Linked DNA regions of Homo sapiens: all the other regions are reported to be linked to region 2. Evidence: microRNA targets listed by miRTarBase, many of them from high-throughput screens and not tested one by one. Region 2 holds a microRNA gene; each other region holds the end of a gene's coding sequence. Distances are from middle to middle.

Evidence for each region. The annotated mature microRNA hsa-miR-4458 reads AGAGGUAGGUGUGGAAGAA and lies in region 2 at 2,531-2,549, shown strand. An mRNA with a match to its seed (bases 2 to 7 or 8) in the 3' UTR can be bound and repressed. Matches are read on the target gene's strand: a 7mer-m8 pairs with bases 2 to 8, a 7mer-A1 pairs with bases 2 to 7 and ends in A, and an 8mer does both.
Region 1: miRTarBase lists GRPEL2 as a target of hsa-miR-4458. Seed matches in the 3' UTR shown: 7mer-m8 at 1,629-1,635.
Region 3: miRTarBase lists FAM43A as a target of hsa-miR-4458. Seed matches in the 3' UTR shown: 7mer-m8 at 905-911 and 7mer-A1 at 1,269-1,275.
Region 4: the mRNA of RDX is a reported target of hsa-miR-4458. Seed matches in the 3' UTR shown: 8mer at 1,388-1,395.

Annotation. Positions count from the first base shown.
Region 1 is chr5:149,350,848-149,354,906 of GRCh38, forward strand. GRPEL2 (GrpE like 2, mitochondrial) reads left to right here. Exons shown (of 4, transcript NM_152407.4): 4 at 71-3,736. The coding sequence ends at 435. The region is part of intron 1 of GRPEL2-AS1 (GRPEL2 antisense RNA 1); the gene reads right to left. Among named protein-coding and RNA genes, the nearest start is that of GRPEL2-AS1, 4.8 kb to the right of the region's middle.
Region 2 is chr5:8,458,403-8,462,469 of GRCh38, forward strand. MIR4458 (microRNA 4458) reads left to right here and starts at 2,523; the gene lies at 2,523-2,597. It overlaps MIR4458HG (MIR4458 host gene), which reads left to right. Exons shown (of 2, transcript NR_039989.1): 2 at 1,531-4,067.
Region 3 is chr3:194,687,353-194,691,411 of GRCh38, forward strand. FAM43A (family with sequence similarity 43 member A) reads left to right here. Exons shown (of 1, transcript NM_153690.5): 1 at 1-1,685. The coding sequence ends at 746. Among named protein-coding and RNA genes, the nearest start is that of FAM43A, 3.5 kb to the left of the region's middle. RefSeq lists enhancers at 1-381, 2,228-2,347 and a silencer at 381-680.
Region 4 is chr11:110,228,224-110,232,282 of GRCh38, reverse strand. It overlaps RDX (radixin), which reads left to right. Exons shown (of 14, transcript NM_002906.4): 14 at 250-2,842. The coding sequence ends at 414. Among named protein-coding and RNA genes, the nearest start is that of RDX, 66 kb to the left of the region's middle.

The DNA of each region.
Region 1 (4,059 bases), 140 Mb from region 2:
TACCCAAACTCTATGCCCACGGGCAGAGTGATTTCCTCACAAACAATAAAAATAACTGGCTTCTCTGCAGGAATCCAGAGTTTCTGTAAGGACTTGGTGGAGGTGGCTGACATTTTGGAGAAGACTACAGAGTGCATTTCTGAAGAATCGGAGCCTGAGGACCAAAAGCTCACTCTGGAGAAGGTCTTCCGAGGGTTGTTGCTTTTAGAAGCAAAGCTGAAAAGTGTGTTTGCCAAGCATGGCCTGGAGAAACTGACACCCATTGGTGACAAATATGACCCCCATGAGCATGAACTCATCTGTCATGTGCCAGCTGGTGTTGGGGTGCAGCCTGGCACCGTGGCATTAGTAAGACAAGATGGCTACAAACTTCATGGCCGCACCATTAGGCTTGCCCGAGTGGAAGTGGCAGTGGAGTCTCAGAGAAGACTGTGAAGAGGCCATCAGGAACTGGATGTTCTCCCAGAGCGCAGTCACCTATGTTTCTTTTATTTATTAAACTAGGTTTGTATTGTACATGAGGTACTTCATGTGATATGTTTTGGATTTAGTCATATTGGCTTTATTTCTAAGATATTCTATTGATTTAATGTGACCTGTTTGGTCTCATCAGAAGTCTTACCATTGGGCATTTGAACAGTGTGACAGGTGTTCCAATGGCCTTTATCAAAACATGTTTAGGAAAATTGGTACTGTGATAAATTTGAATCCAAAATCCTTTTAACTATGGGTTTTCAACTACATGTTTCTTCCTAGCGGTCTCTATAACAGGAATTGTGTAGTATCTTGTATTTTGTGGAAAAAGGAGATGGTAGGGATTGGTTCAACATTTGGGTACTTAGAGGATAAAGCTTCGTGGTCGTATAAATTTAGATCATTTGGATTGATTTTTATACACATAGATTTTCAGGACTTTACCTTTTGTTTTGTTTTTTTCCTTTTAGCCATCTTTTGTTCTTGTAATCCCAACTAGATAGGCTTTATGCTCACATCATTGTCCCATACCCACCCCTTTCTCATCCCCATTTGCAGGGGCTAAAGGTCTAGATGAGACTTGGAAGGCAAGGAGCATCGAAATTTGAGATACCCAGGACCCTTTCAAGCAAGAATGGCCAAAAAGCCTTGTGCTGTCTTTGCTCTTCAAATTATTTTCAGCCTCCTTGTCATATAATCATTTCAGGCAAACTGAGGCAACACTAACAGCTAATGACCCAGATGGCTCTATTTGGGTAATTTACCTACAACTTATTCCACCAGCCTTTACTCCTCTGCCCTTTTGTCAATTTTACCTTATAATCCTTTATTAAATGATGGGAGGTGGTGATCAGGACAAAAGTGTTAGGTTCCCATGATTTCTCATTTCATTTATTAATAGTTAATGCTGAATTTTTTTTTAAGTTTCCTCTGGCTCTATTTATGTTACTTTTTGCGATAAGAACACTTAACATAAGTATTCTCTCCTCTTGGCAATTTTTTTTTTTTTTCCTGTGTTGCCCAGGCTGACCTCCAACTCCTGGGCCCAAGCAATCCTGCCTCAGCCTGCCAAGTAGCTAGGACTACAGGCGTTCACCACTGCGCCCGCAAAGTTTTTTTGTTGTTTTTTTTTTTAAGTTGGTACTCACAAATCACTACCTCTGTTATATTGACAAGCTCTATTTCCTATTCTTTGTATCTGTTAAGTCACATCTGTGTAAACATTGAGCTCACCTTTTATATATTAACCTCTAGAATTAATGGGCCTATGTGGTTTTTTTTCAGTCTTATAGCTGGTGTTCTGTAAAAGATTTGTCCAATAAACGACTTAATGAATGATACATCAGTCAGATTTTAGGAAGGCAGTCAATTATGGATATTTTAATGTTGGAAGAGGCCTTAATGATCAAATCTCACCCTTTCTGCTTCTGAAGTATGAAAATCTAGTCTTTTTAGGACTGGACACAAGGAAAATAATCTCTAAACTATTGACTAAATTCCAGTGAGAGTATGAATGAAGAACAACTAGATATTAATGTCAATCATTTAAGATTAATGGGCATGCAATTAAGTCTCCATTTAAGATTAATGGGCATGCAATGAAGTCTCCAGCAGACAATCAGATGTTGTTGGATGTCTAGATTATATAGGTTTAGGTTGAAGTTATAAAATAAAATAAAATTCATTTTCCACTGGAACTCTATGACATTCAGTGGAGTGGTGGAAAGTTAACCTCTTATACATTATAGATAATTCTAAGACAGCACACAAACTTATCAATAAAGCCATCTCCTTGTGGGCCTTACCATCTTCATCAGATTTAGACCCTTAAAAAACAAGTAAATATGCACTTTTAAAATGCAATCAAAAGACTGGTGGTTAAGCTTGTAAAACCAGAACATCTTTTGGCATTCCACTAAGTATATATTGTAAATTTAATGAACAATCAAGGTTCACAATAGGAAGTTGTCTTTTTTTGCCTTCCATTCTGTGAGATTTGACAGATGGTGACAATAAGAAAATGAGCTGATTGTAATTACTCTCTGTGTGTTTTTTTATTGCTAGCTATCATTACCAGTTAGAATTAACATTAATTACAATTAACAATAATTTTAGGTATGGAATGTTATGATTACCTAAAGAGATGTCTCTACCTAATGAGCTCAAGTGATCCTCCCACCTCAGCCTACCAAGTAGCCAGGACCACAGGCAAGTGCACCACCATGACTGGCTAGTTTTGTTTTTTGGTTTTTGGTTTTTGGTTTTTGGTTTTTTTTTTTTGGTTGGTTGGTTGTTTTTTACAGGCGGGGTCTCACTATATTGTCCAGGCTAGAAGAATTTTCTAATGGTCTATTACACCTCCCGTTTTGGCAAGTAAATTCAGAATAATTTTAGGTTCTTTTGTTATTCAGTAGTTTTGCAGACTTAAAAGTGTAAATTTAGAATTAGAAGATGAAGCTATAGTAGTAAGAATCTCAAGCTGAAGGGCTTTGGGGAGCCAAAGCAGCATATTAGAGCATAGGCTTGAACTTAAATCTCAGCTCAGTCACCTGCAGGACTTTAGGCACCAGTGATTTCACCCTTCTGAGCCTGTTTCTTTATTCGTAAAATGATTATAATAATTCTTTCACAGCGTTGTGAGGATTAAGTGAAATGTGTTAAATGCCTACTACAGTAGGTGCTCAGATATTTATTTTTATTTTTTTATTATGCACATTGTTTTTCCTGCCTTTTTATGGCTGTCTAAAGTCTAGGGAAAAGGGAAGACTGGTTAATGATGAGTAGAAAAAACTTGTAAGCTAATCATTCACTGACTTATTTTCCTTCCATTTTCTGGTTTTTAAAATTAGCCACACCACAGGAAACCCACATTTTTAGATGGAAAGAGCAAGAAAATTGTGTCAGTGCTCTTAGTTATTTTCATCTTAATGGTATAGTGAAAAGACATTGACTTGAGATGATACTAAGGAAGCTTTGGCTCACTCTCACTTGAAGAGGGGATCTTGGTGTTGTAGTACTTGGACTGTACAAATGTTTTACTGACTTTTCTTACTGCTGTAAAGGAATCAGGCAGTTGGGTATTGATATGTTATTTGGTGCTCTCATTCATGGCAAAGGATTTGATAAATAAAAGTTCTTTAAACACTAAAGCAAAATCAAATGAGCAAAACTAAGGATGAAATGTAATATTCATCAGAACAAGGATCACTGAGAAAAAATATTCAGAAACAACTTTAATAAAACCTGAATTGAAATAACTGCAGCTCTGGTGTTTAGAGTCTTTGTCTGCCTATTCGTATTGTATATGGAACATTATGGTCACTTCATGACTGCTGACCTGCCTTGTTGATGCTCTGGAGAGGTACCTTGAGATCTCATAGCAGCATAGCCAAGTGGATGCACTGTGGGCTTTCCCCACCCTGCCTCCGTGTTGAAGTCTTGTCTGTTTTATTCCTCCTTGACTTGCCTCTTTCTGATTGCTACATATTTCTTAGATCTGGATTCCTATTTCTGCCTTTTTTTTTTTTTTTTTTTTTTGAGATGGAGTTTTGCTCTTGTTGCCCAGGCTAGAGTGCAATGGCGCGA
Region 2 (4,067 bases):
AATGTCCTCTTGTTTGCCAGGTGCAGTTCTCATCCCTAGGGGTGGAGAGTTGAAGAAGATATATTCAGTTATTTTCTTTTTTAATGCTTGAGCTAACAATGATTTTATCCTTTGCTTTCTTAAAGGTTTAATTTGCTCTTAGGTGGACAGAAAAGCATAAACTGAATTTTAACTACAAGTTGGTCACAGTTGAAAAGCCTCATGTGTGGTTTGAGTTTTAGCTTAGATCTCTCCTTACATGTCTTTCCTGACAGCTCCTCAGATTTAGACAGTGTGAGGATCAAAACTGTATGAAGGTGCTTTACTCTTGATAATCTGTGAACGTCAACTAGGAAAATTTTGAGTGTATTAGAAATGTTTTTCGAACTCTTTGAGAGTCTAGGCAATTTCACTTGGGTTCTGTGATTAATTTGCAAAGTATTAGGATGAAATCAAGAAACCTGCAGTTTTAATTGAATTGACTTTGGTTTTGTTTCTCAAAAAGTGGGACAACAAAAATACCTACTTAAGACTACTGTTTCAGGCACTGTCTAATTGCATTCATCAGATCTTATTATATTCATTCCATGAGGAATCGAAGACCTATTCAGTCAAGCAGCAGCCCAAGGTTACACGTCTAATAAAGGGCACATTCCCAGATCAAGCCCATGTAGGCTGACTCTAGATTCTGATTTTGAACTGCTCTGTTTCTGAATTGGAGTTTAACTCCTCTGTTACCCCTAGATTAATGGTGAGTATTTTCTCTCACCCAAGTTAATTCCATTAACTCTAATCAGAACCCTAATTTAGCATATTTCCAGTACAGTAGTTGCGGATCCATCCTACTCTAGAGTTTTTGTGCTATGTGTTAACTGTCTTTTATAAATGAAGGGACGGCTTCCTCTGTAACATACGGGAGCATTGTATAATCTTTGAACAGGCAAAAGCATTCCAGAGAAAAGATAGATGAATTTCATATATTTTTATTAAAACAATTTTATTAAAACATAGATAAATACTGGATTATTTAAGCAAGTTGCAGTCTATGTAGGTTAACCACTAAGCTATGCTTCCTCTCTTTGCATGCGTGTGTGTGTATACGTGTGTTTTTCCTAAAGATACATCAAGGCTTAGTACTTTCACAATGAGTTAAGTCCTGCGCTGTGCCTTGAAAGATGAAGGGAGGGAGTTAGAGGCAAAGATGAATTAACAGGTTAACAGGATCCGGGTCCAAGTCCTTAGATGCCTATTAAAGAGTTCAGGCTTCACTCTGCGGGAAGTAGGAAGATTTTTGAAAGACTAAGTACTGGAAGGACATGATCAGGTTTGCAACTTAGAACTATCACTGTGGCTGCAGACCTAAGAGTAGACGAGAAGGGTGGGTAGAAAGGTTAGGAAACTACATTTTCCGAAGAAAAACATGGAAAGAACTGAAAGGGTGATCCTGGAGTCAGAGCCAGGTAGAGAGTTTAGGGATTTAAGGAGGATTTGGTAAGAGATTTATTGTGAATCCTACATCCTAAAATTTTAATGTTTTTTTTTCTTTTCTAGAGATGATAAATAGCCAAAGACGTCAATGGCACCCATGGACATAGTAAGCATAGTAGGAGCTGAAAAACTAGAAGCAATGACAATGTCAACTATTTTGAGCAAAAAGAAGCAGTGTCTTCGGAACATTTGATCATAAAACCAGAAATTAAAGGATGAGAAAAACATTTTTCTGAAGCTTATACTTTCACATTTCCTAGAGAGCATATTTGTGTGGATGGGGGTGGGTAAACACTCAACAAAAGTTTCTTTAAAAAGAAGAAACCATCCTGGTTTGATGTAATCAATGGTTGCCCACTGCTCCCTTCCTGTGCCTGTGACCCTTCCCAAACTGCCCTGTTGCTTGCAGGCTCGCCTGAGCTGAAAGGCAGCCCTCACATCCCGTCGGCACCTCCCTGGGGCCTTCTTTACACCCTGGAGAACTTCACAGGGAATCTGTGTCTGTAACACAAAGGCTTCCTGGTCCAGATGTAGATACTAAGGCTGACTGGTTATTTAAGTCCTGCGGACTTACTCTGCCAAAATTATTTAATCATGTAAAAATAATTTATAATTCTTATAAAGTATCCCCTTCATAATATAATGAATGTTGGTGCTATTACATTTAAGTGCACATGTACAGTATACAAGATTATTAATAATAATGTTTTCAAATAGTTATTGTCAAAGCTATTTTTCTTATGTTTATGAAAGTGCTTATAAAATTCATGTTTTATGAGGCTGGAGATGTATATTTTGTAATTTCATTCTGATATTTGTTAATATTCGCTTCCAATGCTGGTTTTGTTTGATGAGACTGACATTGCCTAATTTCAAGCTTTTTGAATGTGTATTCTTTCAGGGCAAGTATGAAATAACTAGTAAAAAATATACAAATATGCTTAACAATAAGTAGACTTTCTCACATTGATTACTTACAACAGCTTTATGTGGGGTGAATCAGATGCCTGTATTACAGAAGCATCTAATGCAAAGCAAAATAAAAACACTTGCATGAGCGCACAGAGGTAGGTGTGGAAGAAAGTGAAACACTATTTTAGGTTTTAGTTACACTCTGCTGTGGTGTGCTGCCTAGTATTTGCAGGTTAATGCAAATACTAGGGGTTATGAATTGTTTCTAAGTTTATTATTAAAAATAGCCTTGCTTCATTTCTTCCTAAAATGGAGACAAATATGTATAGTGTCTGTGTTACCAGTATGTGTAAGAGTAATATCTTAATGCGTGTAAAATGTTTATAGGAACCTGTATTTCAAAGAGCTATTTTTGCAAGTGACACTATCCTTTTAAGAAACTTTTTTATTCAAACTTTTTCCTCCATTTATAACTATTCTATTATTTCTTAATGTTCAGAACCCTTTTCATTATCTATAAGGTTAAATTTTAGGTAAGTAATGAGAAAATAATAATATGTGGAGAAGAAATGAGTGAGGAGTCGAGATGTGTGTCAATCAAGAATGAGTTTGTCAGCCCTTGTATTATGATTTTACTCGGGAGGGGATAATTATTGAAGGATGTAATGTAAGGGCAGTGATACTATATGGTATGTAAGACTGTTAAAATCACTGAGGTAAGCTATTACTTGAACTAAGCATAGAAATAGAGACAGATTTTTAATGCATTTAATTATCAAAATATCTAAATTAAAGATTTGATGTGGTTGTTCACTGGAAACAAATGGCAGACAAACAGAATATTTCTTGGAATCATAAATGACATCATCCTGTCTCCAACTTTCTGTGTAGCTTCTTTCTTTAGTTGGTCTTTGCTTAGATTTCCCTGTGTCAGAGACGACTTCCCTGGATATCAGTGACAGTTATTGATTGCTCATGCTATGAACTCCTCCCATTTCTCAGCCCTCTTGCAGTAGGTGGGGCCATGGTACTAGTTGTGGCTTATTGCTTAAAGACTTTAAGGCTCCATGTGTGACTTTCCAGCTCTGGTCCACTGCTACTGCGGCTCTGGCAGGACTAGGGAGGTGCCCCGTGTCTCAGATGGTGCAGCCTCCATCCAGCTGTGTCCCTGAATGACTAGAGCACAGCCACTGGTGACCTGTGGTGGACGTAGAATGTGGGTAAGAGATAAACTTATGCTACACCGCTGGGGTTCAGGGGCTAATTTGTTACCACAGCATAGTCAACCTTTTCTAGCACCCCATTCTGTCTAAATTTAGTAGTCCTACCCCACTCCATGCCTCCCCAACCCTTCCCCTGGCTTTAGTTTCTTTGTAGCACTGGTCCCCGCATGACCTGTCGTTGCTTTACTTTCTCGCATCACTTCTCCCTGCCTCCAGCACATGCACTAAAATTTAAACTCCATGCCTGGACAAAATCAATGTTTGTTAAATAAAGTCTGCCAGTTCTGTTTGCGATTTTTCAGAAACAAGGAAAGAAATCCTATATAAAGTTGATCTGTGCTTTGGCAATATTCATTTAGGGTAATTGCCCTTTTTTCAAATGGCTGTGCATTTTTTATGATGATGAATATAAAGTATTTAGCAGAAATATTTTTTATTAAAATTGTTGAGCTTATGGAATCAATG
Region 3 (4,059 bases), not on the chromosome of region 2:
CCAAGCCCGAAAAGGCGCAGGCCATGGCCCTGCTGCTCTACCAGACGTCGGCCAACGCGCTGGCGGAATTTAAACGCCTCAAGCGGCGGGACGACGCGCGTCACCAGCAGCAGGAGCTGGTGGGCGCACACACCATCCCGCTAGTGCCGCTGCGCAAGCTGCTCCTACACGGACCCTGCTGCTATAAACCGCCGGTGGAGCGCAGCCGCAGCGCGCCCAAGCTTGGCTCCATCACCGAGGACCTGCTCGGCGAACAGCTGGAGCAGGAGCTGCAGGAGGAAGAGGAAGAGGAGCAACCCGAGGGCTGCCCGGAGGAGGAGGAGAACCGTGCGGCAGAGGGAGATCCAGCAGAGGAGGAGGCCGAGGCGCAGCGTGCGCTAGTGGTCGCCATGCACTTTGAGTGCGGGGACTTGTTGGATACTCTGGAGAATGGCCGTGGGGAGGCGCTAGGAGGCGGCGGGGGCTCCCTGGGCCCGGGGGCCGGGCCGCCGCCTCTGCTGCTGGGCAGCGCCTCCGACATGAAGGCTGAGCTGTCGCAACTTATTAGCGACCTGGGCGAGCTCAGCTTCGGCAACGACGTGCGCACCCTGCAGGCCGACTTGCGGGTGACGCGCCTGCTGTCAGGCGACAGCACGGGCAGCGAGAGCTCCATCGAGGGCGGGGGCCCTGACGCCACCTCCGCCACCGCCGGGGACTCGTCCCGCCAGGCCGACGGCGCCAGTGCAGACGAGCCCCACTCGGGCTGAGCTCCTCCGCGCGTCGCCGGCGCTCCACCGTGGCTACCCATCCGTGGTCCCGACAACCTCCCTGTCCCTTGCCCGCCCCCAGGAAGGGGGAAATGGGGCATTTGGGGCCCAGACCTACACTTGGAGCCCAGGTCCAGCGTTCCCCCGACCGCTTTCCCCTACCTCCCGGCCCCCGCTCCCGCCCCAGCACTTTTGGCTCTGTTGCGCGTGGGGATGCGGGGAGATTTGAGAGGGGAAAACCCCGCCAGGAGGGAGAGAGAGGCACCCCTCTGGGATGCGGGTGAGGGAAGGTTGGCTGAAGTTCCTAGTCTCAGGCCGTAGGTGCCTGGCCAGTTTCCTGTTTGTGGGGCAGCTGGGGCCTGAGGAGGAGGGGTTCACTTCCTCCTCCCACCCCCTGGGAGCGGCCCTGCGCTGTCACTGACATCTCATTAAAAAAAAAAAAAAATTTGCTCTCAAGGTGTTTGAGGCTTTAATGCAACCCTTTAGCCCTTGGTTCTTTTTGGTGCAAGAATTCTGGCTGTTTACCTCAGACTCAGACCCCTGAAATGTTGCCAAATTCTTCAAATAACTGTTTGGGGGGTGGGGGGAGATGAAAGAGAGTCGCGTTTTGTTTACAGTTAAAGACATCCAATATCTTAAAAAGGAGTTTTCCTTTAGAAACACACACACCCTTCCTCTTGCTCAAAAGATCTCACTCCATGATACTGTGTAAAATATTTTTGCACTGTTGTGAAGTATTTTTGACTTTTTTCTGTACATAACTGTGTTCTCAGAGCTGAATGTTTATATCTTTTGCTGTGCAAAAGAAACATGTAAAATGTTGTTCAGTTGTATATACAGAAATGTGTATAAAACATTTTGTTATTTTTTAAAAGTAGCACTGTTCTGGTTCTGTTTGCACGCCAGTGGGGAGAGAATAAAGAGGAAAATTTAACAGAACAGGTGAGCGTCTGGAACTGCTGCGTTGGGGTGGGAGAGGCTGTGTCTGACCCTGGGATGGTGTCATAAGACAGTCTTTGGCCTTTCCTGTGCTTGGAGAGAATTAGGGAAGGAAGGTCCACTTTATGCGCCATCTGGGGCCTTCCTGGACCTCCACAACTCTGGGTGCTGTGTCTGGGACCAGCCTTTTCTTGTATTATCCTGTATTTTTCAGTAATTAAGTTGTGTGATCTTTTTCTGGTCTTTTGGAGAGGCCACGGTGAGTTCCATATCGCACTCCCAGACCTGTGAGGTTATTTATGGAGGAGTGACTTCCAGATCTGCTGAGATTTTACTACCTCCTTCTGTGGGCCATGCTAATAATCAAGCGTAAGGAGACTACCTTATCTTTTCCTTTACAAACAGCTCAGGGAGCTTTAAAGATGAACTAGAAACCCAAAGAGGAGTTCTCTGAGGAGTGGGGCCATCTCTGTTTTTCCTGGGAGGAAAACCAAGGAGAGAAAAGTTGACAAGTTCCGATCCTGGTGTGAGTGAGTCACGGTGCAGGTGGGTGGGTGGCTGGGCAGGCTGCAGAGCCCATTTCCTTCCCTTCTACAACCCAGTGTGACCCAGTTGGGGGATGGCGCGAAGGTCGAGGGGGAGAGGAGCTGTTAGAGCGCGGTATGGGTGTGCATGTTTCAGCGCTTTCATGCTTTCTGTGTGTTTGTTTCTGTTGTAAACTCCAAACAGATGTCTCTAGTTTGGCTACACCCGATCAGCTGGAAGTTGTAATAAGATGCTGCCAAAACTGTGCCTTCTGCAAATTATATTTTCCTTTTGCCCCTTGAGGCCTCTCTTCCTGTGTTGCAGAAATGGATCTCACTCCTGGCCTTCCCTGGTGTCCTGAGGCCACTTTGCTTTGTTTTCATCATAAATATGTTCTGAGCAGCTAGACCCAGAAATCCTAAGGAGTCTGGAATTCACTGGAACCATAGAGGAAAGAGGGGTGAAAGATTTTCTTCCTAATTAACAGGAATGGTTCAGGCATAGAACTATCTTTAAAAAAGAAAAGCAAAGGGGGCGAGTGGAAAATATGTGTGTGTGTGTGTGTGTGTGTGTGTGTGTGTATATATATATATATTTTTTTTTTTTTTTTGAGACGGAGTTTCACTCTTGTCACCCAGGCTGGAGTGCAATGGTGCAATCTCAGCTCACCGCAACCTCCACCTCCCGGGTTCAAGCGATTCTCCTGCCTCAGCCTCCCAAGTAGCTGGGATTACAGGCATGCGCCACCACGCCGGGCTAATTTTGTATTTTTAGTAGAGATGGGGTTTCTCCATGTTGGTCAGGCTGGTTTCAAACTCCCGACCTCAGGTGATCTGCCCACCTTAGCCTACCAAAGTGCTGGCATTACAGGCGTGAGCCACTGTACCCAGCTGAGTGGAAAACATTTAAAAAAAATTCAGTCTTAAGGGCCTTAGGACGTCCAGGCCTTTGAATCTATTATATTTTGGCTTGGTTGTGCGTCCCGATCCCTCTCCCTGAATACCTCAGATACACATCATTGAATGACATTAAAAACCCCAGCTAGAGAGAGGTCAGGAAAGTCCAGTCTCAGCCCAGCCACCCATCCCAGCCCTTCCACACCAGTGTGCTCACCTGATAAGCAGACGGCTGTGTGGGCCATCACTAGCCTGCGTGACTAGATTTCACATTTGAAATTATTCCCATGCATAGCCAAGTTCCTCTGCTGTTTGAAACTGATGAAGAGATGAGACAGAGTGAAGATAATATGGCTAATACTTGGGAGACAGGGCAGGGTCTGTGTGTCTTCATTCTTATCTAGTTTAAGTGTCCTGTGAGAATGCCAATGTTGGCTTTCATCTGTGACTGACAGGCATGTGGTGGTTGGTCCAAAAGTTCAGGCAAATAGTGTTGAAACCAACACCATCAATAAATATAAAGCAGCCATCTCTTTAAAGTCTGATATTTCCTCTCATGTGATTTATAAATAGGAAGGGGGGCTTGAAGGTTGAGGAGGAGGAAGAAGAAAATAAGCAGGCTGGAAAGAGCCAGCTCCCTTCCTCCTCCGTCTGTGCCCTCCCCATCTCTCCTTCCTCCCCTCTGCTTTTTGGCATCGATCCCCACTGCACCTCAGAGCTCTGACTGATGTAATTCTAGAAGAGATGTGAAGGTGACACGTGATTCACCTCTTCTGACTTCTCAGTCTTCCAGGGATGATATCACTAGAGTAAGAAGAGATGTTTTGAATGAAAATAAAAGAAAGACCCTAAAACTACTTTGCTCCTGGAGCTCAGAGGGAAAAGAATGGAGCGACAAAAGCAAAGCTAAGTCATTAGATAAAATACACCTTCCAGAAAACACCTGAAGTCTG
Region 4 (4,059 bases), not on the chromosome of region 2:
TATTAGATTAGAAAGTTAAGGAAATTTAGAATAATGTACAAAATACCATGGTTGATAAATGTGGAAAGGCCATGTGTATTCCTCCCTTACCACTGCCACCACTATTACTAAAACAAACTTATACCTAAAGAAAAAGGTTTCACAGTGGAAATGATTTGGTATATGTATTTTTGCATCTTAAAGCCATTTTCATAAATTTTTTTAAATCTAAGAAAAAAATAATAGTTGTACTTTTTATTTTTTAAATAGGCATTAAGTTCAGAATTAGCCCAAGCCAGAGATGAAACCAAGAAAACACAAAATGATGTTCTTCATGCTGAGAATGTTAAAGCAGGCCGTGATAAGTACAAGACTCTGCGACAGATTCGACAAGGCAATACAAAGCAGCGTATCGATGAGTTTGAAGCAATGTGAGAGCTGTTATTTTGCATATATGTTCTTCATAAGCTGAACCACCAACAGAGAAAAGCAGGCCTTTGCAGATATGATGGAATGCATCCCACCTTGCCAAAGCACTTACACCAGTTTGACTGTGCTAGCTAAAAGACAAATTTAAGGGGAGCTCTTCAACATTAAGGCAGTATGATATCATGCTTGGTTTTCTTTTTTCTTTTGGTCCAGGGAATGGAGAATGGTGTTCCATTGCCTCTTTTCACATTTTTTTTCTTTTTCTTTTTTTTTTCTGTTGAAGATTAACACTAATTATCACGTCTGACAAATGTGTATGTGTGGTTTCAGTTCTGTGTACATTTTAAAGGATAATGGTGAACATTTTAATGGGTTTCCCTTGCCCTTTCCATATTTAACCTATTTCCACATTCTCTCTCACTCACATTTTCTCAGTGTGCCCTTCTCTTATCTGCCATGTCCATAGCCATAATTCCACCATCATACAGATCAGGCAGTGTTTAAAATGATGGTAGGTAGCACAGTGGACAGTCTTTGATCATCATGTAGAATATGGCTATGAATCAGGAAAGAGATTAGAACATTTAATAATGTATGTACAGCTGGTGCTTAGTTTTTTTTTAATCTAAATTTAATTACCTTATTGGATATTTGATATTTGGTTATTTAATCACAGTCATCTTTAACAGCTTACACTGATTGGTGTTTTATCTCCTGTGATCCTTTGATGGCTTTTTTTGCCTACCATTTCACAGAGGTTTAGACAGCAGTAGTAGCTCCCTAGGAGAGTTTACTGATGAAACAGCCTCTGCAAGATTTTAAAAGTTTTGTTCTTTTATAGACTGATTTAGAAAAACAAATGATTAGTTAAAAAAAGAAAATATACATTTGTTGGTAACTAATGTTATTTTTTAAAACCTGGACCTTTTCTGGAAGGGCAGCATATAAAAACATCAGTCCCGAGGAGGGGACAACAATACTACCTCACTACTACATCTGTGATGACTGGTTGTTCAAACACAATGGAGTGTGTAAGGTATATGTTTTATAATTCATAACCATAGCCTCGATCATCAAGAAATACTTTCGAAATTTCATTTTCCTTCAGAATATCTTAAGAGTGCTAAATTTTTAACTGCCTTTTTGTCGAGTCAAACTGTGGGATTCTGATTTGTATTAAAATTGTAAGCTCCTCACTGGTATACTATCATCCTGGAGGGGTGTTGTATGGCTGAGCAAGAGAGAGAGAGAATGAGAGAGAGACTGTGTGTGTGTGTGTGTGTGTGTGTGTGTGTACTCTGTGTGTGTATGAGAGAGAGAAATGCTAACCTTGTAGCATGTGAAGAATGTCTGTACCTTGATACGATAGTTACATAATCAGTATATTTGGTTTCTAGATCACTGTGCTTATTTTGTTTCAATCTCTGACTAAAAATACTTAAATTTGGTTTGTTAATTCTTATTTTAGAAATTATAATTTTAGTTTATATTAATTTCGGTTATAGCTTACTGAAGAAATCTTTCCAGTTAGAAGGAGGTTCTAATATTCACATGTTCTAATACTTTGTTTATTGTAAAACAGCTAAATTTGGAGATACGTAAAGCCTTGTTTTCTCTGTGTGGTTCAGCTACTTTCCATTTGGTATTACACAGTCAAATTTACATTTATCTATTAAAATTGCCATTTTATTAAACATTTTCATGCACAGTAGATTCAAGTTGTGTCTGAAAATATCTCTTGTGCTTTTTTGATTTTGCTGACTTTAAAAGGATTAATCTGGGCAGACATTATGTAAAAGAAAGGTTGCGTTTAATATATTTTTTGAACTTTGTAGGACAAAACATAGCTGGTTAACCTTGAAGTGACTGTTGTACCATGGTTGTGCACATGCTTCAGAATCCTATGGAAGAGAATATTCCTACTTGCAGTACATCAAAGGAATGGATGGTGGACCCTACTATTCATGTTTTGAGACATAAATGTTCACTTTAAAGCAATTGCATAATAGATAAAAACCTGAACTTTCATTGGATTTTTGTTAATTTTCCTCATTTTGAATTATGTGCACTACCATAGCTACATCAGTTTGATACAGTATTGAAAAATTATCAGTTATATTTTGCTGTTTATGATCTATTTGTAGATTAGGATTAAAATGGATTTAATCCATTTTTAAGGCTGTGTGAATTTTTCTAAACAAGAACCATTTGCAATATGGATTTCTTAGAGATTAAACCAATTATAACTTATTAGCAGTCGCGAGCACATGTTCATATAGTCAATGTAAAAATACACTAATGAGTATTTGGTAAATCCCAGTAGGCTTTTACCATTAGCATAATTTTGTGTTGTACAATTAAGTTACAATTACATCTCTAATTTTGGATAATATTCATTGGTTAACAATAAAGTGACAAAAGCTCATGCCTTCAAGGTCCACTGTTGTTATTTAACATGGATTTTTTGTATGTTTCTTGAAAATTACAATCTTTATCACAGCCATGAATCACCACAACTTAAAAGTAAGAAGTAGATAGGAAATAATTTTAAATCCTCATAGATCTACTCTTTCCCCGATACCTCTTTGGTATGGAAGTAATAGTGATTAATTCTGTGGAAAAGTTAAATTATTAAATTAAATTGACTTTGTTGACAACAAAACGTAATTTAGGGTTTCCAGTCATTGCCTTTATTGTATAGTGGTTAGTTTCTTTTTCCTGAGGAAGATACAGTTTCTTGTCATTGATTGATCTCACTATTAACATTTCAACATTCTTTAAAGAACTGTATGCTAAGTATATTTATGTAAGTACATGTTCTTATTTTGAAGCTGTATTATAGAACAGTTACTATAAATCTAGAAATTGCCTTTTTCAAGTCTTCTTACTAATTTTTAACTTAAATAAGTGATAAATCTATAAAAATAGTAAAAGCTAGATTTTTTTGTTGATAGTAATATTTAACTGTCACTTTATTATTTCTGTTCTCAAGGACACATAGTGATTTTTTTACTCTGATCCTGTCAGAAAATGGAATTTTAAATAATATTTTGCTTTATGTCTAATTAGAGTTTTAAGAACTGGAATGGCCCCTTATAAAGTTATGTTAGATTTTATTGGAAGTCACTCTTATCATTAGAAGTGTTTCAATATTATTGTGTTTTTTTTTAAAATCCCACTGTATTCTGTCCCAGTATTGATCACCGTGTTGATTATTAATGTTTTTAGAAATGAAAATAATTTTTTAAATTCACAGGCATCCCATTTTACATATGCACAATAAAAACAATTAGTCTTAAAAGTTAAAGCTGGAAACTAAAGTCTAAGGGATTACTAACTTTAGCATTAACATACTGAACTAATGAGTAAACCAAAGCTTAGATACCATTAGTAAGAATAAGAGAAAACAGTTCAGTGTGGAGCTGTACTGTTAGGTTCCTCTCTTAAGTCTGTTCTAAATGAACAGAACTTTAGCATTTTCTTAGTTTGTACCACTTCCATTTTTTTAACCTATCAAATATTCTAATGTGGTCTGTCAGATGGAATGACAGTATTCTAGCTCATACAAAAGCTCTTTGGATTCTGCAAATGTGTTTGATAACTTTATGAAATATTCAGGCAGCCTGACCCCCCACAGTCTACGGTAGTAAC